Homo sapiens: one gene and its partners. The protein of the gene in region 4 interacts with the protein of the main gene of each other region in a pairwise test. Each region holds a gene or a part of one and is shown on either strand. Other genes may lie near its edges. The genes, in order: IL37, SIL1, PPP1R16A and UBQLN1.

The links.
Region 1: the proteins of UBQLN1 (region 4) and IL37 interact in binary tests that used the Homo sapiens proteins (3 or more experiments, as listed by UniProt).
Region 2: the proteins of UBQLN1 (region 4) and SIL1 interact in binary tests that used the Homo sapiens proteins (3 or more experiments, as listed by UniProt).
Region 3: the proteins of UBQLN1 (region 4) and PPP1R16A interact in binary tests that used the Homo sapiens proteins (3 or more experiments, as listed by UniProt).

Annotation. Positions count from the first base shown.
Region 1 is NC_000002.12:112,906,389-112,914,183, reverse strand, and holds the start of IL37 (interleukin-37), read right to left. Parts: upstream 3,020-7,795; 5' UTR 2,936-3,019; intron 1,222-2,935; 5' UTR 1,172-1,221; coding exon 1,090-1,171; intron 393-1,089; coding exon 330-392; intron 1-329. UniProt on the Homo sapiens protein: Immune regulatory cytokine that acts as a suppressor of innate inflammatory and immune responses involved in curbing excessive inflammation.
Region 2 is NC_000005.10:139,188,368-139,195,391, reverse strand, and holds part of SIL1 (nucleotide exchange factor SIL1 precursor), read left to right. Parts: intron 1-7,024.
Region 3 is NC_000008.11:144,480,967-144,487,990, forward strand, and holds part of PPP1R16A (protein phosphatase 1 regulatory subunit 16A), read left to right. Parts: intron 1-7,024. UniProt on the Homo sapiens protein: Inhibits protein phosphatase 1 activity toward phosphorylase, myosin light chain and myosin substrates.
Region 4 is NC_000009.12:83,676,946-83,683,969, reverse strand, and holds part of UBQLN1 (ubiquilin-1), read left to right. Parts: intron 1-903; coding exon 904-1,019; intron 1,020-3,932; coding exon 3,933-4,195; intron 4,196-5,370; coding exon 5,371-5,529; intron 5,530-6,008; coding exon 6,009-6,243; intron 6,244-7,024. UniProt on the Homo sapiens protein: Plays an important role in the regulation of different protein degradation mechanisms and pathways including ubiquitin-proteasome system (UPS), autophagy and endoplasmic reticulum-associated protein degradation (ERAD) pathway.

The DNA of each region.
Region 1 (7,795 bases), on a different chromosome or scaffold from region 4:
TGTTTGTCCTCAGTGCTGGGAGGAGGTCTGTGTCTCCAGTCTCTTGGCTATGGTCAGAAGAGGCACCTGGAAGGTTCCCAGGCACAAACTCTTCCTTGCCCTGTGCCTCTTAGCAGGTGAGCATCACCTGCCCCTCCCCGGGCTCATCTTTCCCAGAGTTATCTCCTAATGGGATTTGCTTCCACAAAGGAAAGACTTCAGCCCCATCCAGCACCCTTAGGTGTCCCCATTCTACAATTCTCCCACCCTGTAAGAGGACCCAATGGCTCCATCCCCCATCCCCACCCTCGCACCTCAGCCACCCCCATCACCTCACCCCGAGGCCTTACTTGTGTGAACAAAATTCATGGTGGGGAGGCTTGGGCCTGGTTCCAGGGGGCTTCCAGCCGGGTCTGCAGTCAGACGCAGTGAGGTTAGCATATGCAATTCGGATTTTCCAAGGATTTAGGGGTATCAAAGACCATTTAATTCCCTCTTCTGTGTATGTGCTGAGAAATACTAGAGCAGCATGATAGTAATGACATTAAATCATAGCTTCCCTCTTCAGAAACATAGAATAGAGATGAACTGGATCACGGGTTTGGCCTCTGGCATGTCACAGGCCTCTCCCGTCACACCTCAGTAGACAATCATTTGGGTCAAAAGCCTCCTCCTATTGTCCCCCATGGGCAACACCCAAATGTGTTCCTCATGGAATACTCAGATGCCCTGTGCCTGGGTCATTTGTTCAGCCCAGCCTTAGAGAGCTGCTTCTCATCGGAGGCTTCTCTTCCACTTGGGAATGTTGGGAGGGAAGAGGTGCATTTTGAAGCATATGCAACCATCCAGTTGGCAAACAGGATGCTAAAGCCCCAAATCTGTAGGTGAGGACGATCCTTTTATCTACTACCTGATGTGCCTGGACACTGAAGCAAAGCTTCCTTTTCCCTTCCAGAATTTCTCTTGTCTAGTTATTTGTCCAGGGAAATTTGAAAGCTCACTTACTGTGCAAGTCAGCAGGAAACAACTGGGTCTGTGCACAGCACCTAGCAAAGTTCTGCTCTAGGAATTACACTTTGGCCCTGAGGTAGATTTCTACAAGAACCTTACCTTCTAAGCAGCACTGGGGTTCATCTTTTTCCCAGTCCTCAGAGCCCATTTTCACTCCTGAGTTCTCCCCCACAAAGGACATTTTCAACGTTGAGTTTATTACTCAACAGAAAATGGAATGAAGTCCAAGACCTAAGGAGATAGAAAGGGGACCAGTTATGGCATCTTCTCACCCCAGGACACCTTGCTGCATGTCTCTAGTGCTGAACAGACCACTGGCCTTGCTCTGTAGTTTGAAATGCTCGCTGCAACCAGAAAGGCACCAAGGGGCCAGACCATGCTCTCCTGTCTATCACGCCTTCAAAGCAGAATTTCCCAAACCTTGAGTCACAGTGCTAACACACGGGGTGCAATAGCATTTTTGTGGATCTTGGCATTTTACAAAAATAAAATAAAAAAGTTAAAAGTGCATTGCTCTAGTCTTGGGGCTGGCACACTATGGCCTTTGGCCAAATCCGGTCCCTGACTGTTTTTTTAAATAAAGTTTTATTGAAACACAGCCATGCTCTTGTTTACATATTGTCTCTGGCTGCTTCGAGGCTACAATAGCATGGTTAACTAGTTGAGAGATCATCTGGCAAGCAAAGCCTAAAATACTTACCATCTGACACCTTCTATAGAAGTTTGCTGAGTCTCTGCAGTAGCCTAATCTTTGCCTAACAAAAAGCAGTTGCTCTGCAACCTCTTTTCATGAAAACCTAAGCCACCAAATGTCCCAGGAGGCTCAATCCCTAATATCTTAGGGTAGGATTGACTCACGTGACTTGCTTCATTGGGAGGGGTTGGAGGAGATATATTTATATATATAAATTCTGCACACCCTATCTCAGTTGACCGAGAGCTTTCAACATCAGCCCAGGCCAACATAGGACAGAAGTGGAGCAAAAATTGGTATTCCCATCTTACCGATAAAAAATCAAAAGTTAAGTGATTTGTTCAGAATCATATCACTTCTAAGATTGCAGAGATAGGCAGTTTGTGTACAAATCCAATCCTTTGAGAAAGGTTTAGGAGTGAGACAAAGGGAACTAAATTGTTCATGCAAAAAATAAAAATGACAAGGAAGGGCTTCAGGACTCAACAATAAGGACGGTGAGCAGGAGCAGGTGGGTAGAGCTGATGGGTCTTTAGGAACAGGGATATCTGCTATTTGATTTTAACCTGTTTGTGGTTTGGCAGTATCCCTGAATACATGAAGCACAACTGCCTTTGTCATGTTGGGGTAAATCAAAGGACACAAAAAATTGGAGGCGCTTGACAGAGAATTTGGCAGCCAGAACATCAGAGCAAGAGATGTCTGGCAGAAACGTAGGTATCCAAAGACATATAAAGATACTGTGGTGCTGCTGAAGGACAGAAGGATGCTCACAGGCTGGAGGACCTGGGGCCATCCCTCGGGGGTACTCATGAAATCTGCTGCCTGTATTAAGATAAATGCAGGGAGCTTTCACAGAATTCCCTAAAGAAGCAGTGCATCTGGCCATCTGAAGTCCATCTCTTTGCACTCAAAATCTGTTCCCAAGGACCAATATTTTCTAGACTCTAAAGTCAGTCTTCTGAGCCTTCAGAGAAGGGACTAGCATTTCCAGGGTTGGTGGATTTCCTAAGCTAGTGTCTGCCTGGCCCTCCAGCAATGCCCTACTTGTTAGTGGAAGCCCTCCTGGGAGAGAGCAGGCTGCTACTGGGGCTGAGAGCAAGGTGTTCTGGGCAGGTCTCAGAGATCATATTTAGAAATTCAGATGTGCTTCCAGTGGGGATAAAAAGCAAGGGTCTAGATGGCCAGATGCTACTCTACTTCCCCATCCATCCTGTTGGCCTTGAAAGCCAGTGCAGGAGGACCACCTACCTGGGCCAGGGATCCTCGTGGTCTGTGGCTCTGTCTTGGACTCCTGGAGCTCTGTTTGCCTTCAGTTCTCAGGATCCTTTACTTGAAGGAGCTAGGTCTGGTACTCATTTGTAATCAACAGTTTGTGAGTGGTTATGCAAATACAACACAAGTATTCCTTTGGCCAATAATAAATAGCATCCTCAGTTATCAGTGATCACTCATTTCCTGCTATTTTCCATGCCAACGGTATAAACAAATTCCTGTGGGGGTAGTGCCACTCTGCTAAGGACTGTGCCACACCTATTCAACACATTTCAAGGTACTTGTGATAGATCAGGTGGCTTCCAGTCCAGTCCAATAATACAGGTATAGAAAACAGAGGAGAGTGAAGGAAAGAGGGGACACAGGGTTTAGATCAGCCAATGAGCCTGGGAGGTTCAAGGAAGCCCTTGTTCTCATGATGGTTCTTTGCCCCAATTCCAGAGTTCATGCAAGTGGAGTCCCCATGTCCCAGAGAAAAATGTCCTCTTTTCATGTTCCCTTCCAGGTACACTCCGGGATGCACTATACCTCTTCTATGTCCCCTCTTCTTCAAAGGTGACATGCAAAAGGACCTTCCTTGATCAAGCCCTCCAAGGACTAGCTTCCTTCTACAGCCCATTAGCTATTTATCTGCACTTCCTTGCATTTTTCCATCACATTTGCCCTTGTCAGTTACTGTGTATGGCTATGTTTTACAACACCACACACAGCTGCTCAGTATGAGGGGAAATCCACATAACCAATTAAGGTAATAGCTTCTGGACCACCACCAGCAGCATGTCAATAACACAGGAACAACAGGCCAGCACAATAGTCAACCACTGTGCTCTCACTGTGCCAGGTCTGGGCTCAGCCCATTTATTTATTTTTCTCCAACCAAATCCTTTGATGACCCTGGGGGTAAATACCATCCTTCCTGTTTTACAGACAAAAGGTGGTGCAGTTTAGAGAGGATGGACAATTTACCCAAGATCACATCCTTAATTACTGGAAGAACTATAACCCAGGCCTTTCTGAGCATGCTGCAGCCTCATCTCTTAAACTTCACCGAAGACTGTGGTCTCATCCTCTAGCCTTTCTTCACATACGCATTTATATAACATACAAATATAGGAGTGTGTCTGACAAATTATTTTGTAAGATACATTTCCTACTTAATGTATCTTGCCTTTTCTACTCAATATGATATCTCAAACATCGTTCCATTTCATCAATACTTTTCTACAATAGTGTATCTAATTACTGCAAGGTATTCCATTATTTGTCTAAAGACCTGGAAAAATGTTATTCCCTTGATGGCTAGAATACAAATCCCTGATTTCTGTTAAATTCCATAAGGAGACACATATCTTTAGAGAACTTCTTGATAAACCTCTTGGGATGGGATGAGATTGTGAAGGAAAAGAGGAAGTAAAAATTTTAAAAAGTCAAAACAAACACTAACTTATCTTCTAAGAAGGTGGTTGGGGTAACTGTAGGCACTTCTGTGGTGCTCACTTCTGGAATGAATGAGGATGTGAGTGTGGGGGCAGCAGGCCATTGCTCTCAGGACAGGGAAGATGGAGATGCAGGGAGGGTGCCATGTTGAGGCAGTTGCAATAGAGACTTGTAGAGATTCAACCAAGTGGTTCCGGAAAGGAAGGGAAATGAGAGAGAAGAGTTTGTCTTTAATAGGGGGTGCTACCTAGTGTAGTATGGAGTATTCATAAACTCTTGCCTTTATTGCCCCATGTAAAACCTCAATAAGTTCGATTATCTGTACCAATACTGATATACAAGGGACACTGTTTATAGGAGGTTGAAGCTCGAGAGAATAAGGGGCAGCTAACTTGTATGTCACATATGGACAGATCATAGTCTAACTAATCCTCAATTTTGAACATCTGAGTTATTTTCACTTTTACATTATTATATGTATGAGATATATATATATATACACACACATATGCATACATAATTCTGTGCTTAATATGCTTGTCCAAATCTTTGCATATATCATTGATTACTCCACTAGGATAAATTCCTACATGTGTAAATGCTAGACCAAAGGACATACATATTTTATTTTATATACTTTTAAAAATTTTCTATCTTACAACGATTTTTAAGGACTCCAATTTATTGAAAAACAAATTCACTTTTCTAACTACTCACTGCAGAGGCAATCACCATGCAGACTTTTGACAGGTAGCTGAGTTCCTGTGTGTATGTTTCTGTGGTATGTGTATATTTGGGGAGATGCATGTATACTTTGTGTATGTATGTTTTGTACAACATATGTATTTTCATGCCATTATGGAGTTGAAAGGTGAGGCCAGGTGGACTTCCTGGGTCCAGTGGGGACTTGGGGAACTTTTCTGTCTTACAAGAGGATTGTAAAACACACCAATCAGGAACTTTTCTGTCTTACAAGGGGATTGTAAAACGCACCAATCAGCACTCTGTAAAATGCACCAATCAGCAGGATTCTAAAAGTAGCCAATCACAGGGAGGATTGAAAAAAGGGCACTCTGATAGGATGGAAACAGAACATGGGAGGGGCCAAAAGGAAGTAAAAGCTGGCCACCCCAACCAGCAACCCTGCTGGGGTCCCCTTCTGGGTTGTGGAAGCTTTGTCCTTTTGCTCTTCACAGTAAACGTTGCTACTGCTCACTCTTTGGATCCATGCCATCTTTAAGAGCTGTAACACTCACTGCGAAGGTCCACGGCTTCATTCTTGAAGTCAGCGAGACCACAAACCCACCAGTAGGATCTATCTCTGGACACAGGTTTGTGGGCATGTTTGGTGTGTGTTGTGTGTATATATTTTGTGTGTGTGTTGTGTGTTGTTATGTGTTGGGGGTATGTATGTTTTTATGATTTTGTGTGTGTGTTATGTGTGTGTTGGGCGGGGAGAAAAGCCTTTGGTTCCTTTGTGTCCACAGCACGGGACAGGGCTCAGCATAACTAGCGATTTGCAGTTGATTTATTTACATGAAACGTATCCCCTTTTGCACTTTAGGCCAAAAAAAAAAAAAAGTGCAGTAGAGCGATGCTCCTCCATTTGAACCAGCCTCCTGCATTCAAGGTGGGAGATGTGCTGAGAGACATCCAGGAGTTGTTTTATGAGGATTACCAGATGACTCTGGAATTCCAGTCATTCCCAAGGATACTCTTTTGATATTTCTGAACAGATTAGACCCCACTGAGAGATTCCACCTTTAAAGAAATTCAATGAGATCACATGGACACAGGAAGGGGAACATCACATTCTGGGGACTGTTGTGGGGTGGGGGGAGGGGGGAGGGATAGCACTGGGAGATATACCTAATGCTAGATGACGAGTTAGTGGGTGCAGCGCACCAGCATGGCGCATGTATGCGTATGTAACTAACCTGCACAATGTGCACATGTACCCTAAAACTTAAAGCATAATTTAAAAAATTAAAAAAAAATTAAAAATAAATAAATAAATAAAAATAAAAATAAAATAAAAAAATTTAAAAAATTAAAAAAATATAAAAAATAAAGAAATGCAAGTGGCCTCTTCGCAGCAAAGCCAGGTAAGCTGACACGAGGAGACAGACAGCACGTGCTGCCAGGCATTCCCTTCATCAGACACCAGCTCCTGCCCAGCGTGGGAAGCCAGGGTCCTGGTCACTGTGCGGGGCCGAGGCTGCTGCTCCTTGAGTGACACAGCAAAGGGCATGTGTCCCCAGGTCACTGGCCATCCTCTCTGATACCAGACTTTTTGGCATTTGGGACCCTCACCTGAAGCTTCTGGCAGATCTGGGGGGTGGGCCTTGTTCCCCCATCCACAAGTTATTTCAAGAATTTACATCCATTTTTTGTTGTTATTTGGGCCGTAGGATGTGAGTTTTAACAGAGACAAGGGAAAGCTCTCAAGAGAATGATCCAGATTCCTGGGAATCCTATAAGCCCTCCTCCACCTGACTAGGACTGCATTTTTAAAGCCTTCATTTGTGCAAAGGCCTTTGTGCTGACATAGTAATACCCCATTCCAGGAACTTGGGCCATGGCCTCCTGTCTCGGCAGCATTTCTGGGTTAAGGGGCAGCCAGTGATTGTCCTCAATGCTTGAGGCACTACAGGGTGGGAGGTGGAGGATCACAGGTGAGTCAAACAGGAAGCCTGCTCCTGGGGAGCTTACAGTGATGTAGGGTGGTGAGACAAGGACACCAATACCTGTGTGCAGGTACCACTAACAAGTACAAAGCACTGCAGCAGCAGGGAGGAAACCTCCCTGTGCAGAGGGGGCTGAGGAGGGCTGCAGGGAGATGACAGGAAAGCCGGTGTTAAAGTAGGAGTACTTCCCACTCTCTGGGCATGAGGAGACCAGGAGGACATTCCACAGTGAGAAACCCAGGCAGAGGCCGTGTGCTTATGGCATTGGGGGGGAGAATGACACCTTAGAATTATTCTCTACATTGGAATTGTCTATTACAGATACCCATATTGTAGCTTCACATAGTGTGGTGGTTAACTGTGTTATCATATTGTCTTATTTGCTATTTTCCAGCCACCCGCCCATCCCTGATAGTCACTGGCCCAGCACAGGGCCTTCCACCTTCCATCAAACAAATGCCTGAGCTTCTCACCGAGGGGTAAATCACCTGCCAGTAGGGAAGGATCCCTGTTATAACCCCTCTCCAGGCAGGCTTGGTCCAAATGAACTCCTAGGAGCCCACGCCCTGGGAAATCCCCTGGCCACTGTTGTGGCTGGTCCTGCCAGCTAGAAGAGGTTCCTCCAGGGCCAGATGCAAGCTCTGTGGCTGTTCCAAGGAGGCTCTGCAGCACTAGCTCAGCCTTGTACCATGCTGGGCTCCTGGGGATTTCT
Region 2 (7,024 bases), on a different chromosome or scaffold from region 4:
AAAACAAAAAAAACTGGGAATAATATTTACTTTGAAGGGTGGTTAAATGACGTATTACACATGAAAGCTCTTGGGACATAGGAATGCAATAAATGTTTTCACCCTCAAAGAATGAAGATTTGCCGTTAATGAGAATATTCAAAAGAACATGAGAGTCTCTGGCCGGGTGCGGTGGCTCACACCTGTAATCCCAGCACTTTGGGAGGCTGAGGTGGGTGGATCACCTGAGGTCGGGAGTTCAAGACCAGCCTGACCAACATGGAGAAACCCCGTCTCTACTAAAAATGCAAAATTAGCCGGGCGTGGTGGCGCATGCCTGTAATCCCAGCTACTCGGGAGGCTGAGGCAGGAGAATCACTTGAACTCGGGAGGCGGAGGTTGCAATGAGCCGAGATCATTGTGCCATTGCACTCCAGCCTGGGTGATAGAGCGAGAGATTCTGTCTCAAAAAAAAAAAAAAAGGCTCTGAAAGGAAGTTGTACCTTTTTCGAAATAGGTGGATTCTCTTTTTCACATACTTGTGGATTCATACTCTGACCTGCTCAGCCTCCCCCTGTCTTTCTTCATTCATTTTCTGTCCTTTCCTAAGTGAAGTTTTGCTGCAGAGGCTGTCTGCCAGTCTCTTGTAGTAAGCCTCTTTTCAGGAGAGCTAATCTGAACTCTCTTACAATGCTAGTCCCTTAGTCGCTATTCCTAGGGATTTTTTTCTGGGGGCTCCAGATGGTGCTTGGATCACGCTCTGTAGCACAGCCATCTCTAACTCCTGGATTTGGTGTCAATTTGGAGACCCATCCTGTGGAGCTAATCTTCTCTCTTTCTGAGCAAGGATGAATACTTTATCCTTTTCTGAGTCGGCCTTAAACTGCAAACCTTAGTCTTCTACAGCAGAGAGTCTTGTATTTTAATTATACGTAGACTAAAGACGGAATAGCATGCCCTTTTCTTTTCTTCCTTTACTTTCACCAAGGATTTCACTGCTGAGTAGGGGAGTAGGAGAATAGCCTGTTGCCATTCAGAGTGAGGCCTTGGGTAACCCCTGATTCCTAGCATAAGCAATAACTGAGTTCATCTTTGGGACAAAAACCTTGTAAAAGATTCGGGCTGCTCAGACACATGTGGAGAACCTCAAGCTAGGAATTTTCCTAGCTTGTGAGGAGTTTACACCTGGCATTCTTACTTTTGCAAATTTGTACCCAGAATCCAGTAGCAACAAAACTATATTCAGCCCAGACTTGTAGTTCCTTCAGGTTCCACCAGGCAGCTGTAAGACATGGCTGTGATTATGCTGGCTGGCCATGTTTGCCTTCATCCTCCTAATACTGCCCTTGGCTTTGGTATTGAGAAGGAAGTGGCATAATCAATTCATGAGTAACATTCTCTGCCAAAGTGGAAATCAGGGGCAGAGAGTTGTGAGCATAGGACTAGACAAATGGAAAGAGCCAGCCTTGCCTCAGGAATGCTGCTAAAGTGCTGTGAATCCGTGACAACCACTGTGTTTCTTGGTGTCACCTCATTTGTGAAATGGGAATGCCTTCATTGATCTCTCTCTTGAGAAGAGTGGACCACCATGCCAGTTTTCCCAGGACAGAGGGATATCCGTATGTGGGACTTTTAGTGCCAAAAGCAGGAAAGTCCGGGGCAAACCAGGACAAGTTAGTTACCCTACCCATGACCATTATACAAGTTAATGAACACTGTGCCCTTAGGGTTCATCTAAGACTCAACCCTTTGGGTTCATCTAATTATTTTTCAACCTTTTGTTCATTATCATATTTTGAGACTTTTTTTCCCTTAATTGTCTACTCCCCAGTGGAATGTTTTTTTGAGAGGGAGTCTCACTCTGTCGCCCAGGCTGGAGTGCAGTGGTGTGATCTCTGCTCACTGTGGCCTCTGCCTCCTGGGTTCAAGTGATTCTTGTGCTTCAGCCTCCTGAGTAACTGGGATTATAGGCGCCCACCACCATGCCCAACTAATTTTTGTGTTATTTAGTAGTAGTTTTTGTGTTTTGCCATGTTGGCCAGGCTGGTCTTGAACTCCTGGCCTTAAGTGATCTGCCCACCTCAGTCTCCCAAAGTGCTGGGATTACAGGCATGAGCCATCGTGCCCAGCTACCCCCAATGGAATTTTAATACCACAGATGTACTGTGTATCTGTTTTTGTATTGTGGCCCTTTGGATGGCCACAAACCATTGTAATATCTAACTTTTTTTCCCCCAAGAATCAATTTTCACCCCTTCTGGGCTGTTACTGCACTCACTGAGAATGCATGGTCTTATCTGATATTCTTTCTTTAATGTAGTCATCAAGGCCAGTTTTTTATCCAGAAGAAACAGCTAGTACCACAAGCTTTTTCGTTTCCTTTCCTGTTTTTTTTTTTTTTTTTTTTTTTTTTTTGAGACTGAGTTTCGCTCTTGTTGCCCAGGCTGGAGTGCAATGGCGTGATCTTGGCTCACTGCAACCTCTGCCTCCTGGGTTCAAGTGATTCTCCTGCCTCAGCCTCCTGAGTAGCTGGTACTACAGGCATGTGCCACCACATCTGGCTAATTTTTTTTTTTTTTGGTAGAGACAGTCTCACTGTGTTGCTCAGGCTGGTCTTGAACTTCTGGGCTCAAGCATTTCTCCTGCCTCGGTCTCCCAAAGTACTGGGATTATTAAGTGTGAACCACCACACCCAGCCAAGTTTATTCTTTATTGTTTTAATTTTCTTCCAGTCTTTGGATTTTGAGGTGGTCCATTTATCATCTGCTTCTCTGGTGCCTCTTGGACCTTCCATCTTCACAGCTGGGGCTGCTGTGTTGGCCCAGGTGTCCCCAGACTGGACATCGGAACCTTTGGGAAGAGTCTGATGTTTGGCCCTTGTCACATTTCACATTTCACATCTACAGAGAAATGGGGAAGGGTATGTTTCTGAGGTCTGCTCATAGGCTATGTTGTGACTGAGGAAGTTCTTGATCATCCCTTTTGGTTACCACTTATCATCACTGGCAGAAAAACATCAAAGTGGTCAGTGAACTCATCTCCACATCTGGCTACTTCCATCTCTGCAAGTAGTTTGCTTCTTCAGTCTTGTGATGGGAAAGAGATCTAGAAACTGGAAGAATAATCTGAGATACATCCTAAAGTTCTGGTGAGGAAAGCTAATGCCAATGGACTTTTTTTTTTTTTTTTGAGATGGGGTCTTGCTATGTTGCCCAGGCTAGTCTTGAACTCCTGGGATCAAGCAATCCTTCCACCTCAACCTCCTGAGTAGCTGGGATTACATGCATGTACCACCATGCCTCACTCGCCAGTGGATTTTTTTTTTTTTTTTTTTTTTTGAGACAGCATCTTGCTCTGTTGCCCAGGCTGGAGTGCAGTGGCACAATCTCGGCTCACTGCAACCTCTGCCTCCCAGGTTCAAGTGATTCTTCTGCCTCAGCCTTCCGAGTAGCTGGGACTACAGGCGCCTGCCACCACGCCTGGCTAATTTTTGTATTTTTAGTAGAGATGGGATTTCACCATATTGGCCAGGCTGGTCTCAAACTCCTGGCCTCGAGATCTGCCGGCCTCGGCCTTCCAAAGTGCTGGGATTACAGGCGTGAGCCACTGTGCCTGGCCCTTTTTAAGAGGGTCTCACTCTGTTGCCCACGCTGGAGTATAGTGGTGTGATCATAGCTCATTGCAACCTCCAACTCCTGGGCTCAAGTGATCCTCCCACCTCAGCCTCCCAAGTAGCTAGGACCATGGGTGTGCACCACCATGCCTGGCTAATTTAATTTTTTTTTTTTTTTTTAAAGAGACAGGGTCTTGCTTGCAACATTGCCCAGGCTGATCTTAAATTCCTGGCCTCAAGTGATGCCCTACCTTGGCCTTCTAGAGCACTGGGATTACAAGTGTGAGCCACCATGCCCAGCTATACCAGTGGGCTTTTAAATGGACATTTCTTTACCTCTGGGGATAGTCTCATTTTTGTGAGGCTCCCAAGGGGAAAGCAGCCATCTGACCAAACTAGAAAACTAGCAGGCTTCAGCCCAGTGGAATAACATAAAGTAGGACAATCGATACAGACAACATTGATTGGCCATGCTTTGAGTGCTGTGGATAGTGTGTATTGGAAGCTTAAGGGGCCAGCTCATAAGTAAGTTGTAAGTAAGTATTTAAGGATGCTTTTTTTTTTTTTTTTTTTTTTTTGAGACAGAGTCTCACTGTCACCCAGGTGTGAGTGTGATCTTGGCTCACTGCAACCTCTGCCTCCCAGGTTCAAGTGATTCTTGTGCCTCAGCCTCCTAAGCAGCTGGGATTACAGGTGCTTGCCACCATGGCCGGCTAATTTTTGTATTTGCAGTAGAGATGGGGTTTTACCATGTTGGCCAGGCTGGTCTTGAACTCCTGACATCAGGTAATCTGCTCACCCCGGTCTCCCAAAGTGCTGGGATTACAGGTGTGAGCCACTGTCTCTGGCCTAAGGTTGCTTCTTGTTTTTCCCCACACCCCATCTCATACTCATGGGGAGTTGGGTTTGACTGTATTCTTGAAGTTAAGTCTCCATCCTTGGACCCAGCTGCTAAAGTCTAAAATGATTGTGTTTTGGGCTGGAAGATATTATAGAGATCTTTATTTCCTTGCAAACATCAGGGCTGGCTGTTTGTGGTACTGTGGATGAGTGAAGAGTCAGGAGATACACTTCTAGTTCTGTTACTGCCCAATGCCTCCATTTTGCATTTGATAGGTTTTTATTTTTCTGACGACAAAAACTGAGCCCCAGAGAAGTGAAGTGGGCCACGTAATGGTAGGATCTTTTTTAGGCCACCCACATAATAGTGGGACTCTAGTGTTAGAGCTGGGACACAGGCTAGGGGTCTTACAAAGGGTGGCCATAGAAGTTGTTAGAATTGTTTAAAGCATTGTAAAGATGCAGGATGCTTTTGCAGTTAAAAGTCTCCTGGGAAGGAGGAGGCCCTGTCTCCACTTACTGCCTTGTACATGATCTTATACCCTCATGGTTGAAGATTTTTGCTGTCGTGCTGTTTTTCCTCCTACTCATGTCGAAATGTGTTTCTCTTGCTCTTACCTCAGAGGAAATGAATTTGAAGCCTTCCTCCGTGTTAGAAACAAATAGTGCTCAGGCCAGACTTGTGTGTTTCTGTAAAGAATGAGGCCAGATGTAACAGTGGACCTTATCTGGTGATCCAAGCAAACCTTCAAGACATCTCTAAGAGAAAGAGAGAAGGAATGAGTGTATTTCAGAGTGGTTTAAACACACTTTGGAGTCAGACTCACTTGTATTTACGTTCTGATATCTACTTACTAGTTGTCAGATTGTAAGTTACTTATTTTCTCTAAGCCTTAGTTTTATGATCTGTTGAATGGGAATAGTAATATGTATTTTTATAGCTATCTTAAGAATTCAGAGAATAGATATGGTGCTTCCTCTGGCACAATGTAAAACAGCAGTCCCCAACCTTTTTGGCACTAGGGACTAGTTTCATGGAAGACTATTTTTCCATGGACTGGGGGATGTGGGGGATGGTTTGGGGATGATTCAAGCACATTATATTTATTGTGTACTTTATTTCTGTTATTATTATTTTTGAGACAGAGTCTCACTCCATCACCCAGGCTGGAGTTCAGTGGCACAGTCTTGGCTCACTGCAACCTCTGCTTCCCAGGTTCAAGCAATTCTCCTGCCTCAGCTTCCTGAGTAGCTGAGATTACAGATGTGTACCACCACACCCGCTAATTTTTGTATTTTTAGTAGAGATGAGGTTTCACCATGTTGACCAGGCTGGTCTTGAACTCCTGACCTCAGGTGATCCACCCGCCTGGACCTCCCAAAATGCTGGGATTATGGGCATCATGCCCAACCTATTTCTATTATTATTACATTATAGTATGTAATGAAATATACAACTCACCATAATGTAGACTTAGTGGGAGCCCTGAGCTTGTTTTCCTGCAACTAGACGGTCCCATCTGGGGGTGATGGGAGACAGTGACAGATCATCAGGCATTAGATTCTCATAAGGAGTGTTCAACCTAGATCCCTTGCATGCACAGTTCACAATAGAGTTTGTGCTCCTATGAGAATCTAATGCTGCCACTGATCTGACAGGAGGCGGTGCTCAGGCGTTAATGCAAGCGTTGGGGAGCAGCTGTAAATACAGATGAAGCTTTGCTCACTCACTTGCTGCTCACCTCCTTGGATGGGTTTCTGATAGGCTACAGACCAGTATCGGGGGTTTGGGACCCCTGATGTAAATGCTCTGTGTTGTCATCATTATTGACAACAATAGTTTCCAGTTTCTGAGCCACGTCGTAGTTTCAGGATAGGTTATGCTGACCAAGCAAGTTTTATCTTAACCATCACCTCATTGTTGTCTTAGTTGGTTTGTATTACATATTATTTATACCAATAGTTATAGGTATTTCATGCTGAATAACTAAAAGTTGTGAGTAGCAAGGAACTTTGCTGCTTCTCTGCCATCTCCTTCCTTACTCAGCTTAGTGCTTATCTTTCTCAGGTTCTCTCTTGTCAGGTGCTCAAGCCAGCAGGCCTTGTTTCGGGGGCAGTGTCTGATGAGGGGATTTTATTGGGGTAGGGCTGGCTAGTCCAGAGCCTGCCTGGTCCCTCAGATAGTATGTTCTCCTTATCTCTTGCTTTCTGCTCTTCAGCCAGACATGAAGCAATTAGCTCATCAAGGGAATGTTGACTTTTGTCACTGCTTTCCTCTGATTTGTATGCTCATTTCTGGTCCTTGTGCAAAGTCACGGAGGCACAGTCACATACACTGACCCAGATTTTGTGCTCAAGTTGACTGTCTCTCTCTTTGAGATGTACAACTGGTTCCATGTAGCAAGGGAGTGAGGAAAAAGCCCCTGGAGCCAATCCCATTATTTTGATCTCAAGTTGAGTTTTTAAAAAAATCCAAGCACTATGACTATAGACCATGCCTCACTTCTCTGTATGAAACAAATAAGGTAAAAAAAACTCACTATTTGGAGGGAAGGCCAATCTGAATTGGTAAACAATAGGAATTAGTACATT
Region 3 (7,024 bases), on a different chromosome or scaffold from region 4:
CAAGCTCCGCCTCCTGGGTTCACACCATTCTCCTGCCTCAGCCTCCCAAGTAGCTGGGACTACAGGCGCCCACCACCACGCCCGGCTAATTTTTTGTATTTTTTTAGTAGAGTCGGGGTTTCACCATGTTAGCCAGGATGGTCTCGATCTCCTGACCTCGTGATCCGCCCGCCTCGGCCTCCCAAAGTGCTGGGATTACAGGCGTGACCACCGCGCCCGGCCTGTTTGATGGGTTTTGTGAACAACGTCATAATCCAAATATAAAACATTTCCGTTGCCCCCAAAAGTTCTCTCGTGCTCCTCTGTGGTAAGCCCTTCCTCACACCCAGCCCAGGCAATAGTGATCGCTTTCTATTACTGTAGGTTTGGCGTCCCTTTTTAAGAATTTCACATTGGCTGGGCGTGGGGGCTCACGCCTGTAATCCCAGCACTTTGGGAGGCTGAGGCGGGTGGATCATCTGAGGTTGGGAGTTCGAGACCAGCCTGACCACCATGGAGAAACCCTGTCTCTACTAAAAATACAAAAAGTTAGCCAGGCATGGTGGCGCATGCCTGTAATTCCAGCTACTCGGGAGGCTGAGGTAGGAGAATCCCTTGAACGTGGGAGGCGGAGGTTGCGGTGAGCCGAGATCGCACCATTGCACTCTAGCCTGGGCAAAAAGAGCGAAACTCCATCTCAAAAAATAAAATAATTTCACATCAATGGAATCATATGGAATGAATACTTTTGTGTCTGATTTATTTTGCCAGATGACAATGTTTTAGAGATTCAAGTGGTTTTGTGTATCCGTAGTTGATTCCCTTTTTCTTTTTTCTTTTTTGTTTTTTTGAGACAGAGTCTTGCTCTGTTGCCCAGGCGGGAGTGCAGTGGCACGATCTTGGCTCACCGCATCCTCCGCCTGCCAGGTTCAAGCAATTCTCCTGCCTCAGCCTTCTGAGTAGCTGGGACTACAGGCGCCTGCCACCATGCCCTGCTAATTTTTTGTATTTTTAGTAGAGACAGGGTTTCACCATGCTGGCCAGGCTGGTCTCGAACTCCTGACCTCGTATCCGCCCGCCTTGGCCTCCCAAAGTGCTGGGATTACCAGTGTGAGCCACTGTGCCCGGCTGCCGCCGCCGCCGCCGCCGCCTTTTTTTTTGAGATGGAGTCTTGCCAAGTGCAGTGGTGTCATCTCGGCTCATTGCAGCCTTGGCCTCCCGGGTTCAAGCGATTCTTCTGCCTCAGCCTCCCAAGTAGCTGGGACTGTAGGCATGTACCACCACACCCAGCTAATTTTTGTATTTTTAGTAGAGACGGGGTTTCTCCATGTTGGCCAGACTACCTGAAGTGATCTGCCTGCCTCAGCCTCCCAAAGTGCTGGGATTATAGGCATGAGCCACCGCTCCTGGCCAGTTTATAGTTTTCTTATTTTTTATTTTATTTTTATTTACTTATTTTTGAGATGGAGTCTTGCTCTGTTGCTCAGGCTGGAGTGCAGTGGCACAATCTTGGCTCACTGCAACCTCCACCTCCTGGGTTTAAGCAGTTCTCCCTGCCTCAACCTCCCGGGTTTAAGCAGTTCTCCCTGCCTCAACCTCCCGGGTTTAAGCATTTCTCCCTGCCTCAACCTCCCGGGTTTAAGCAGTTCTCCCTGCCTCAACCTCCCGAGTAGCTGGGACTACAGGCACATGCCAGCATGCCCAGCTAACTTTTTTTTTTTTTTTTTTTGGGACAGTCTCACTCTATCGCCAGGCTAGAGTGCAGTGATCTAGGCTCACTGCAACCTCTGCCTCCTGGGTTCAAGCGATTCTCCTGCCTCAGCCTCCCGAGTAGCTGGGACTACAGGCGCCCGCCACCACGTCCAGCTGATTTTTGTAATTTTAGTAGAGACGGGTTTCACCATGTTGGCCAGGATGGTCTTGAGCTCCTGACCTCATGGTCCACCCGCCTCAGCCTCCCAAAGTGCTGGGATTACAGGCGTGAGCCACCGCGCCCGGCTTATTTTTTTGTATTTTTAGTAGAGACGGGTTTTTGCCATTTTGGCCAGGCTGGTCTTGAACTCCTGACCTCAGGTGATCCGCCCCCCTCAACTCCCAAAGTGCTGGAATTACAGGTGTGAGCCACCGCGCCCGGCCCAACTTTCATTTCTTTTGCGTATGTACCCAGAAGTAGGATATGCCTTCTTTTTTATGTTGTGTGGCTGACAGAGTTACGTTCTGTTCTGTAACGATGTTCACATGTCAGTCTTTCTATCTACAGAACCAGGCAGTGTGTGTAAAGTAGGTTTCCTCATCTGTGGGTCCAGTGTCCCAATTCCTGCCTCCTACAAATGATGTTCTTGGCTGGCTTCAAGTTCAAAGGCTTTCCTCCTGTTTCATGCATCATCAGTCTCCTTCATCACGTGAATTTTTTGAACTTTGTCATCCTATGTGTTGTGTCGTTCTGTTTTCTTTATTTCTTTTTATTTATTCATTTATTTTTGAGACGAAGTCTTGCTCTGTCGCCCAGGCTGGAGTGCAGTGGCACCATCTTGGCTCACTGCAACCTCTGCCTCCTGGATTCAAGTGATTCTCGTGCCTCAGCTTCCTGAGTAGCTGAGACTACAGGTGCATGCCGCCACGACCGGCTTTTGTATTTTTAGTAGAAATGGGGTTTTACCCTGTTGGTCAGGCTGGTCTCGAACTCTTGACCTCAGGTGATCCACCCGCCTTGGCCTCCCAAAGTGCTGGGATTACAGGCATGAGCCACTGCGCCCGGTCTCTTTTTTTTTTTGAGACAGAGTCTTGCTCTGTTGCCCAGGCTGGAGAGCAGTGGTGTGATTAGAGATCACTGCAGCCTCAAACTCCTGGGTTCAAGCAATCCTCCTGCTTTGGCCTCCCATATGTTGGGATTATAGGCGTGAGCCACCATGCCCAGCCCTTCCCTGTTTTCTTTTTCCTTGGCCACCTTCCCCTGCTCATCTCTCTGCTCTGACAGCTCCTACCATCTTTCCTTCCAACTTCTAGGAATGTGCTGGCTGACTGTGAGCTCTCTTTCTTGGAAATGCCTTTCCAGCTCCTGTCCCAGGCTCACAGGCATCTCAGTGGCTTACTGTGTCACCTGCGCCCTAGGTTGGTTGTCTAGACCCCACACCTCTGTTGTCCTAAGGCTGGGGACCCTCACGGTCCCAGTGCTGCCTCCTTCCACACTCCCAGGCCCTGTGCCACTGGCACGTCTGTCCGCAGGTCCCCTTCCCACAGCCCCACCTAGACCGAAAGGTCTGTGTCTCTGTGAGGAAGTGAATACCGAGTCAGAGCAAATCCTGGGTTACAGCGCCGACCCCTCTGAAGCTCACTTTTGTGATTTTGGTTTCCTCACCATTGTACTTGACAGACCTTAGTTGCCACATCTACTCCGTGGGGGTTATGGCCCATTAGAGCTATGAGGCTGAATGAGGCAGTTCATAGGGAAGGCTGCTTGTGGCCCTGGCTTCTAGAAAGGTGTGATTTGCAGGGGCTGCTAGGAGCCCTCCCTGCCCTCTCTTCCCTTTCTTTTGGTCTAGGGCTGGCTTTTATCTTCAGTTCTCGTTGAGTCTCTTTTCAAATGCAGATGCCTCAGGCTGCCAGCTTCTTTCATTTAGGCATCTGGGCCTTTGACACCTTGCTGTGAGTTAGTTTATTCGATTTATTTTGAAGCCAGGTGGCAAGGGGAAAGGAAATTGAAGAGGGAGATGCAACGCTTCCCCTGGTTTCTGGGGAGAGGCTTCCCCAATTCTCCAGCCCCTGACAGACATTGCGTGAGAGCTCATGGTTAGCGGGCCAGTCCCTGGTGTGGTCCACGCGTATCTCCTGTCCCGGGCTGGAAGCATGATGTGTGCAAATGTCCAAATCACGGGGTCTTCCCTCCCTCACAGGGCTTTAGCCAGGCAGCTGTTACTGAGGTAAATAATGATTTGTGTTTGTAGATAAAAAATAGTGGAATAGTTTCAATTTCATATGGTTCTGCTGCTGGGTGTTATGCAGGGGGAATCTGAGGAGCACTGAGATCACTGGGAAAGAGGCCGGGTGCGTGGCTCACGCCTGTCATCCCAGCACTTCGGGAGGCCGAGGCAGAATGAAGAATCTCATGCCAGGGGCCAGAAAGGAGGCTGAGACCAGAGTGTGAGTAGGAGTCAGCCCCCTCAGAGGTGGGACCAGAGAGGAGGCTCCTTAGGAAGCCATAGTGAGGAGGACATGTGGGACAGGCTCAAGGATTGACAAAAGAACCAGTAAAAAAGAATAGAATCTCAAAAAAAAAAAAAAAAAAAAAAAAAAAAGGCCAGGCGCAGTGGCTCATGCCTGTAATTCTAGCACTTTGGGAGGCCAAGGTGGGTGGATCACTTGAGGTCAGGAGTTCAAGAATAGCCTGGCCGACATGGTGAAACCGTGTCTCTACTGAAAATACAAAAAATTAGCCAGGCGTGGTGGCACACACCTGTAATCCCAGCTACCCGGGAGGCTGAGGCAGGAGAATGGCACGAACCCAGGAGGTAGAGCTTGCAGTGAGCTGAGATTGCGCCACTGCACTGCAGCCCGGGCAACAGAGCAACACTCCATCTCGGGAAAAAAAAAAACAATAGATAAAGAAAAATAAATAAAAAAAGAAAAGAGATGGCTCAGAGATCCCTTGTAGACTTCCCGGGTACCCATGTGGTAACGTTGCACCTGTCAATGGAGTACAGCAGTTCAAGGGGATGTTGACACCAATGTGCTCCATTGACCTTATTCAGATTTCACAGCTTTCCATGTGTCTACCTGTGTGTGTGTGGTTTAGTTCTGCGCATCTGTCACTGTAGGGTTTGTGTGAGCCCATGGCCAAGATGCAGCACAGCCACCATAGGGACCTCTTGAGCTGCCCTCTTGCAGCCACAGCCACCTCCCTTTCCCAGCCTGAACCCCTGAGAGCCACTGGTATGTTCTCCATCTGTATGGTTTCACCATTACGAGAATGCTCCATAAATGGAGTGCTGCAGGGTGTGGGCGTTGAGGTCGGCGTGATGTCCTGAGGTCCATCCAGTTGTGTGCACTACTAGTGTGTTCCTTTGACTGGAGGAAACGTCTATGGTATGGATGGACGGACCATCATGTTTCACCTGTTACAAGACATTTGGTTTTTTCCCCCAGTTTTTTGCTATTATGAATAAAGTTGCCATGAACATTTATGTAGTTTTTTGTGTGACTTAATTTTTTTTATTTTTTGAGACAGAGCCTCACACTGTTGCCAGGTTGGAGTGCAGTGGTGTGATCTCGCGCCACCACACCTGGCTAATTTTTGTATTTGTAGTACAGATGGGGTTTTGCCATGTTAGCCAGGCTGGTCTTGAACTCCTGACCTCATGTGATCCCGCCTGCCCCAGCCTCCGAAAGTGCTGGGATTACAGGCGTGAGCCACCACGCCTGACTTAAATTTTCATTTCTCTGGGATAAAGGCCCGTGAGCGCAGCTGCTGGGTGGTTTGGGAGTTGCATGTTGAGCTGTTTTGGTTTAAGAAACTTCCACACTGCTCTCCAGAGTGGTGGCTGTTTTATTTCACAGGTTTTCATCAGCTCCTGTGAGATTCCTTTGTCCTCACATCCTTGCCGTTTGGATTCGTGGGCAGCGGTATCTCGCTGTGGCTCTAATTTGCATTTTACGAATGGCGGGTGATGTTGAGCATCTTGTCACGGACGCATTTGCCATCTGTGTATCCTCTTCAGTGAGGTGTGTCTTTGCATCCTCTGCCCATTTTCTAATTGGATCGTTTCATTTTTACTGCTGATTTTTTGAGACTCGTGTGTTCTTGACAGCAGTCCTTTGTTCTGTGTGTGGTCTGTGGATATTTACTCACTCAGTAGCTGTCTTTTCATCCTCCTCTCAGGGTTTTTAGCAAGGCAAAAGTTTTTAATCTTGTCAAGGTCCAGTTTTTCCGTTTTCCGTTTTATAGACTGTGCTTTTGCTTTTGGTGTCACCACTCTGTAGAAGTGCTATTATTTTACCTTTACGTTAGATTTGCATTTCACCTGGGGTGGGGGTCAAGATTCTTTTCTTTTCTTCTGTTTTTTTGTTTTTTGATTATTTTCTGTCACCCAGTCTGGAGTGCAGTGGTGTGATCTCGGCTCACTGCAACCTCCACCTCCCAGATTCAAGCGATTCTCCTACCTCAGCCTTCAGAGTAGCTGGGACTACAGGTGTGTGGCACCACAACCGGCTAATTTTTTGTATTTCTAGTAGAGACGGGGTTTCACCCTGTTGGTCTCGAACTCCTGATCTCAAGCAATCCTTCCCCCTCAGCCTCCCGAAGTGCTGGGATTACAGGCGTAAGTCACTGCGCCTGGCCCCAGCACCATTTATTGAAGGCTTTTCCACTCCCAGCAGTGTCATAAATTGCATGTCTACACATGTGTAGGTTTATTTCTGTTTTGTTTTGGGGACAAAACAAAACAGTCAGAGACAGAGTCTTTCTCTGTCCCCCAGGCTGGAGTGCAGTGTTGATTTCGGCTCACTGCAACCTCTGCCTCCCAGGCTCAAGTGATCTTCCCACCTCAGCCTCCCAAGTAGCTGGAACTGCAGGGGTGCACCACCATGCCTGGCTAATTTTTTAAATTTTGTAGAGATGAGAGTCTCCCTGTTTTGCCTAGGCTGGCCTTGAATCCCTGGGCTCAAGTGATCCTCCTGCCTCGGCCTCCCAAATTGCTGGGATTGCAGGTGTGAGCTGCCTCATCTGGCAATTTTCTGGACTCAACCGTATTCCATTGGTTTATTTCTCTATGCCTAAGCCAGTAACTTAGGTCTTACTTACCAAACTGTATATAATAAGTCTTGACATCTAATAGTGTAAGTACTTCAAATTTGTTCTCTTTCAGGCTTATCCCTAGTGTTCTTGGCCTTTTGTGTTTCCATATAAGTGGAGCATTAGCTTGTGAGTCTCACACTGTTGGGGTTTTGATTGGGACTACGTCAAATCTTGGATGAATTTGGGGAGAAATGACATCTTTTCAGTTCTGGGTTTTGCAACATATAACGAGATGTCTCCTCCTATATCTTCCCA
Region 4 (7,024 bases):
GGCTCACTACAACCTCCGCCTCCTGGGTTCAAGTAGTCTTCCTGCCTCAGCCTCCTGAGTACCTGTGATTACAGGCATGTGCCACCATGCCCGGCTAATTTTTGTATTTTAGTAGAGATAGGGTTTTACCATGTTGGCCAGACTGGTCTTGAACTCCTGACCTCAGTTGATCGCCTGCCTCGGCCTCGCAAAGTGCTGGGATTACAGGCGTGAGCCACCGCACCTGGCCAAGATAAAAAAGTTTTTTATATAGTCAAGCTTTGTGGGTGTAACTGGTCATTGGCTTCCCTCTTATGAGATAACCTACCTCCATCTCTTACATAAGCAATATGATTGAAACTAATGAAATATTTGTGTACATTATACTCAAAGAGGAGGGGCAATTGCAGCATATTTTGTATTTTGTAGGGTTTTATTTTATTTTGTATTTTTTGTTCCTAATGCTTAGTTTTCTCAGGCTTTTTACTAAATGATAATTTGATTTGGTCTGAGAGTTTACCCTTTATTTCTAGATGTCAGGATTTCAGTGGTTCTTTTTTTTTTTTTTTTTTTTTTGAGACGGAGTCTCGCTCTGTTGCCCAGGCTGGACGGAGTGCAGTGGCGCGATCTCGCTCACTGCAAGCTCCGCCTCCTGGGTTCACGCCATTCTCCTGCCTCAGCCTCCCAAGTAGCTGGGACTATAGGCACTCGCCATCACGCCCGGCTAATTTTTTGTATGTTTAGTAGAGATGGGGTTTCACTGTGTTAGCCAGGATGTTCTCTATCTCTTGACCTCGTGATCAGCCAGCTTCGGCCTCCCAAAGTGCTGGGATTACAGGCGTGAGCCACTGTGCCTGGCCTTTGGTGGTTCTTTTAAAAATAATCAGCTCTACTGCTTACTCTGTGATTAATTATTTTCCCTAGGCCTCAGGATCATTCAGCTCAGCAAACAAATACAGCTGGAAGCAATGTTACTACATCATCAACTCCTAATAGTAACTCTACATCTGGTTCTGCTACTAGCAACCCTTTTGGTTTAGGTAAGTGTCTTTAGTCATTCCAGTAGGGATGGGAAAAAATACTCCTTTCCCTTCCTGGGTAGTTTCAGATAAAATGAGAAAATAAAACATTATGTCACTTTAACAACAAAAATTAAAAAAAAAAAACATACATTCCTATAATTGTAGATATTAAGGAAGTAGTTGGGGATATGGATATTCTTACATATCAGTTGGCGCCTTTCTTTTTAATGATGAAAGAGATGTAGTTTGTGTATACCTGATCTGACTACCACATAATTTAGTATGAGTAAGATTAGCTGGTTATTAATCGTAAGCCAGCGTCCCTGAATAATAATTTTTTCATTTGTAAAAGGAAGGGATCAGACTGCATTAGTTATTTTGTAACTGTCCTGAACACATGGAAGGGGGTCTGGGAAGCCAGCCTCGCCTAAAACTGCTTTTGTTTTTCTTATATTAGTTTTTGTTTGTTTGTTTGTTTGTTTTTTTAAGAGAGGCAGGATCTTGCTCAGTCACGGAGGCTAGAGTGCAGTGATGCCATCCATAGCTCACTGCAGCCTCAAACTCCTGGCTTACGGTGTCCTGCTGGTGTCCCAAAATGCTGGGTTACAGATGAGAGCCACTGTGCCTGGCCTGTATTAGATTTATATATTGAGGTTCTGTGGAATATATATATATATATTTTTTGAGACAGAGTCTTGCTCTGTCGCCCAGGCTGGAGTGCAGTGGCGCGATCTAGGCTCACCGCAACCTCTGCCTCCTGGGTTCAAGCGATTCTTCTGCCTCAGCCTCCCGAGTAGCTGGGATTATAGGAGTGTGCCACTACGCCCGGCTAATTTTTTTGTATTTTTAGTAGAGACTGGGTTTCACCATATTAGCCAGGATGGTCTAGATCTCCTGAATTTGTGATCTGCCAAAGTGCTGTTATCCATTTTCTTTTGATAATAGATAGCCAAACTCAGTGGCTTATTACAACAAAGCTTCATTTCTTGCTGCATTTTTCTGCATGCTACGCTTTTTACCGGTTTGTAAGGTGCCCATCCATATAGTCCCTCAGAGACTCAAGCTAATGAAAGTCATTTTTCATTCTGCTGTATTATAGCTCTACCATTTGGAACACGGCAGAAGAGACAGCTACAGGGTTTTAAGTTGAACCTGCTATACTTTGGCCAGAAGTGGCATATATCATTTCTTGTAGTCCTTTGGCATTTCACATAGGCCTGTCCAAGTGCAAAAGAAATAATAAGGCTGCAAAATGAAATGTTTGGTGAGCACTGCTATCTGCTACTGTAGTTAGTCATACTGAAGTTTTTGTGGTTTCAAGAATGCATTAATACATTTATTTTTGTGCTTTTTGTATATGGTGTTCATTGTGCCTAGTATTCAGTCCCCCTCCTAACCTTCTTCACGTTTCCTTGCCAAAGTATTTATGCTCCAGACTCATTAAGTGTTATCTCTTCTTCTGAAAGTAGCCATTCCACTTGGGTTATATTACCATAATATCCTGTGAATATTCTTTACTGAAGTACTTAGCATCTGTATAGACATTTATTTTCTTGTCTGTCTTTCCTACTAGATTGAGTTCTGAGGATGTCTTTCTTGTTGCCTTATTCTCAATACATATGTAACACAGTCTCTGGCATATATAAAAAGTGCTCAGTAAGTGAGAACTGAATGCATTTAGTTGGTTATGTAATTTTACGAAGTAAACACTTTGTGGTAAGCACTTGGTCATCCTGTTGCTCTGTTAGGTTTCTCCTTGATTGAAGTCCTCCAAAGAGAAATCTATTTCCAGGTATTCCCTGGCTCTCTGTCTCCTTGACTGGCAGTATCAGCCCTCTTGTACCCAGTGTTTATAGGTGAATTCTGCTTCCTGTTAATAAAACTTAAACTAGTCTTTTGGAAAGATTATTAGAAGCATAGTCTGGTGTGTGTATTTATTATTTCTTCCTTTAGCTGGCATAATCTGGACTGTTTTTTCTGACACCAGCCAATTGTCCAATACCAGCTCTGTGTCCAAGATTCAGCTTCATTTCTGATACTACCTACCTACAGTTAGTGTCTGATCTCACAAGTTAGCAGACTCAGTCCTGCAAGACTGCCCCTACTTCAGATACTGGTCACAAGTTCTAGGCCATCTGTACTTCTGACTGACCAGCTCTAAGTTGGGGGTTCCCCTGACCTCCTCCTCAGGTTCAATAATTGCTAGAATGGCACCTAGAACTCAAGGAAACACTTATGTTTACCTGTTTATTATAAAGGATACAACTCAGAAACAGACAAATGCTTGGAAGATAATTATTAGGGCACAAGGTATGGGTATGTGGGGGATGGAAGTTGGGCTCAAAGGTTCCATCCAGGTTTCCTCAGCGCACAACCCTCCTAACACTCAGATGTGCTTTTCATTTTGAGTTTTCTTAATTTTATTGTTGAAGAATTTGCATAGAGCTCTATCTCCACCTCCCTACCCTTACTTTCTTGGTGGGTGGGGCTGAAAGTTTTAGCCCTTTAATCACTTTGTCTTTCTGGTGACCAGCTCCTTTCTGAGGCTTTCCAGGGGCCTAAGTCACTTCATTAGCATAATGATCAAAAGGGCTTGTAATGAATAATAAAAGATACTCCTGTCACTCAGAAAATTCCAAAGTTTTAGTAACTCAGGATCAAGGAGAAAGACCAAATATATTTATTATTATACTACATACATGAAAATATATTTTGTTGATTTTATTACTTTAATTACCAAAGTGTAAATTTTTGGCTAATTTCAATGATAGGAATTAAATATTAGTAATAGGTATTCGATTTGTTTTTAAATGATTTCTTGTAATAGACTATTGGGTCAGCTAATACTTTTTTGCATCTTCATATTTTATGTCATGTTAATGATAAATTTTCTGACTTTGATTTGTATGTTTTTGCCCTTTATCCTCTTAGGTGGCCTTGGGGGACTTGCAGGTCTGAGTAGCTTGGGTTTGAATACTACCAACTTCTCTGAACTACAGAGTCAGATGCAGCGACAACTTTTGTCTAACCCTGAAATGATGGTCCAGATCATGGAAAATCCCTTTGTTCAGAGCATGCTCTCAAATCCTGACCTGATGAGACAGTTAATTATGGCCAATCCACAAATGCAGCAGTTGATACAGAGAAATCCAGAAATTAGTCATATGTTGAATAATCCAGATATAATGAGACAAGTATGTGGAAAGTTCTTTCAGTTCGTTTAGCTAAAAAATGATATATTTGTTATTTAATTTTCTGTGGTTAATGAGATTGTCCTGTATGTATGGTTAAGCTAAAGAGAGAAATCCTTATCTTGGTTTAAGAAAACTCAACAAAGCGCTAATTTGGCTGTTTGAACTCTGAATTTTCTGTTAAATTGAAGGATCTTTGTAAATAGTTTATTTTGAAGGCTTAAGAATCAAAAAGTCCAATGCTGGAGATGGGAAATTCACTCATAACAAAGTGCTTCCTTCTTTATGTTATTTGAATGCTAAGTTGCTTTTTTGAGGTGAAATACACCAGGGATTATTTAAAATAACCTCCTGCCTTATATGTTGAATACAAAATTGCAACAACTTTAAAGCTTTAATTGGTTTTTATTTGTGATTCTAGAATCAGACAACACCTCATTTTATAAAATAGAGTGTTCTCATGAGCTGAGCAGAAGAGGTTGGCTTTATAGGCATAAAAGGGCTGAAGAAAGCAAAAACGAACAAAAAGCAGATGGGTCATTTCGAAGTTACTTTCCTAATAGGGTTAAAATGGAGGGAACTCTTTCTTGTTACAGTGACTCACGTTGACTGCAGCTTACTATGGTTTTGGGGGGGAAACTGGCCCCTTTCATAGTTCACTTTGATTACATGGCACTTGGCACAAGTGGCTCTATTTTGGTTTGTTGTGGTCTGCTGGGGCATAGTGCAGGAGGCTGGTCCAAAACAGTGGCCTCCTGGCCGGGCGCGGTGGCTCACGCTTGTAATCCCAGCACTTTGGGAAGCTGAGGTGGGCGGATCACGAGGTCAGGAGATCAAGACCATCCTGGCTAACACGGTGAAACCCCGTCTCTACTAAAAAATACAAAAAAAAATTAGCGGGGCGTGGTGGCGGGCGCCTGTAGTCCCAGCTACTCGGGAGGCTGAGGCAGGAGAATGGGTGTGAACCCGGGAGGCGGAGCTTGCAGTGAACCAAGATCATGCCACTGCACTCCAGCCTGGGCGACAAAGCAAGACTCCGTCTCAAAAAAATTAAAAAAACAAAACAAAACAGTGGCCTCCCATAAACTTTGTTTAATGGCAGTTAATAAAGTAATTAATGTAATTCATGTGTATTTCAATGCCTTTTTTTTTTCTTTTTTTGGAAATATTTTTCGTAGACGTTGGAACTTGCCAGGAATCCAGCAATGATGCAGGAGATGATGAGGAACCAGGACCGAGCTTTGAGCAACCTAGAAAGCATCCCAGGGGGATATAATGCTTTAAGGCGCATGTACACAGATATTCAGGAACCAATGCTGAGTGCTGCACAAGAGCAGGTGATCCACTGGCTCCAAGGTTCAGGCCAAGGAGTAGCTTCTGTTTTAACACAAATATGTGTATGATTGAGGGTAGCTTTTATATGAGGAATGTGGTTTTCAATTTTTAAAAAGTTCAGTGGCCGGGTGCAGTGGCTCACGCCTGTAATCCCAGCACTTTGGGAGGCCGAGGCGGGTGGATCCCGAGGTCAGGAGATCAAGACCATCCTGGCTAATACGGTGAAATCCCGTCTCTACTAAAAATACAAAAAATTAGCTGGGCGTGGTGGTGGGCGCCTGTAGTCCCAGCTACTCGGGAGGCTGAGGCAGGAGAATGGTGTGAACACAGGAGGCGGAGCTTGCAGTGAGCCGAGATCGCGCCACTGCACTCCAGCCTGGGTCACAGAGCGAGACTCCGTCTCAAAAAAAAAAAAAAAAGTTTCATATCTTATTTAAAACAAAAGCTTATTCTTTGTGATTTTTTATGTCTTTTATTACAGTTTGGTGGTAATCCATTTGCTTCCTTGGTGAGCAATACATCCTCTGGTGAAGGTAGTCAACCTTCCCGTACAGAAAATAGAGATCCACTACCCAATCCATGGGCTCCACAGACTTCCCAGAGTTCATCAGCTTCCAGCGGCACTGCCAGCACTGTGGGTGGCACTACTGGTAGTACTGCCAGTGGCACTTCTGGGCAGAGTACTACTGCGCCAAATTTGGTGCCTGGAGTAGGAGGTATGCTTTTAACAACTCAGGCTTTTTTCTTTGTTGTCCTCATTTACATAATTAAAACATTGTTTATACTCTTATTCTTTGTGCTTTTGTGTGTATGTATAGTGAGTATCTTTTATAAACTATATTTTTCATGTTGCTTTTGTTTTGTTTTGTTTTGTTTTTTTGAGATAGAGCTTCGCTCTTGTTGCACAGGCTGGAGTACAATGGCACGATCTCAGCTCACCGCAACCTCTTCCTCCTGGGTTCAAGTGATTCTTCTGCCTCAGCCTCCCGAGTAGCTGGGATTACAGGCACCTGCCACCATGCCCGGCTAATTTTGTATTTTTAGTAGAGACAGGGTTTCTCCATCTTGGTCAGGCTGGTCTTGAACTCCTGACCTCAGGTGATCCGCCTGCCTTGGCCTCCCAAATTGCTGGGATTATAGGTGTGAGCCGCTGCACCTGGTCACATTTTGTTTTTTAAAGGAAGCTTTAAATGTAGAGAGAACACTTATTTACTTGTGTAGTTGTTACTAGTTACCTGTGTAGTTGTTACTAGAGCACATGTTTGCTGTCTTTAGCCTGGTTTTGTATTTTAGATCAGTAGATTGTCAAGCACCCGTCTTGAGGTCAGGGCTATACTGGCTGCATCAGAGCACCTGCCAGGTTTATTAAAAATCAGATTCCCAGATCTTACCCTCAGACTTTGTGGAGCCAAATCTTTCATAGTGGGGTTAAGATCTGTGTTTGTGTGAAGCAGATTCTCATGTGTGAACAGGTTAGAAATTTACTTTTGTCCACTT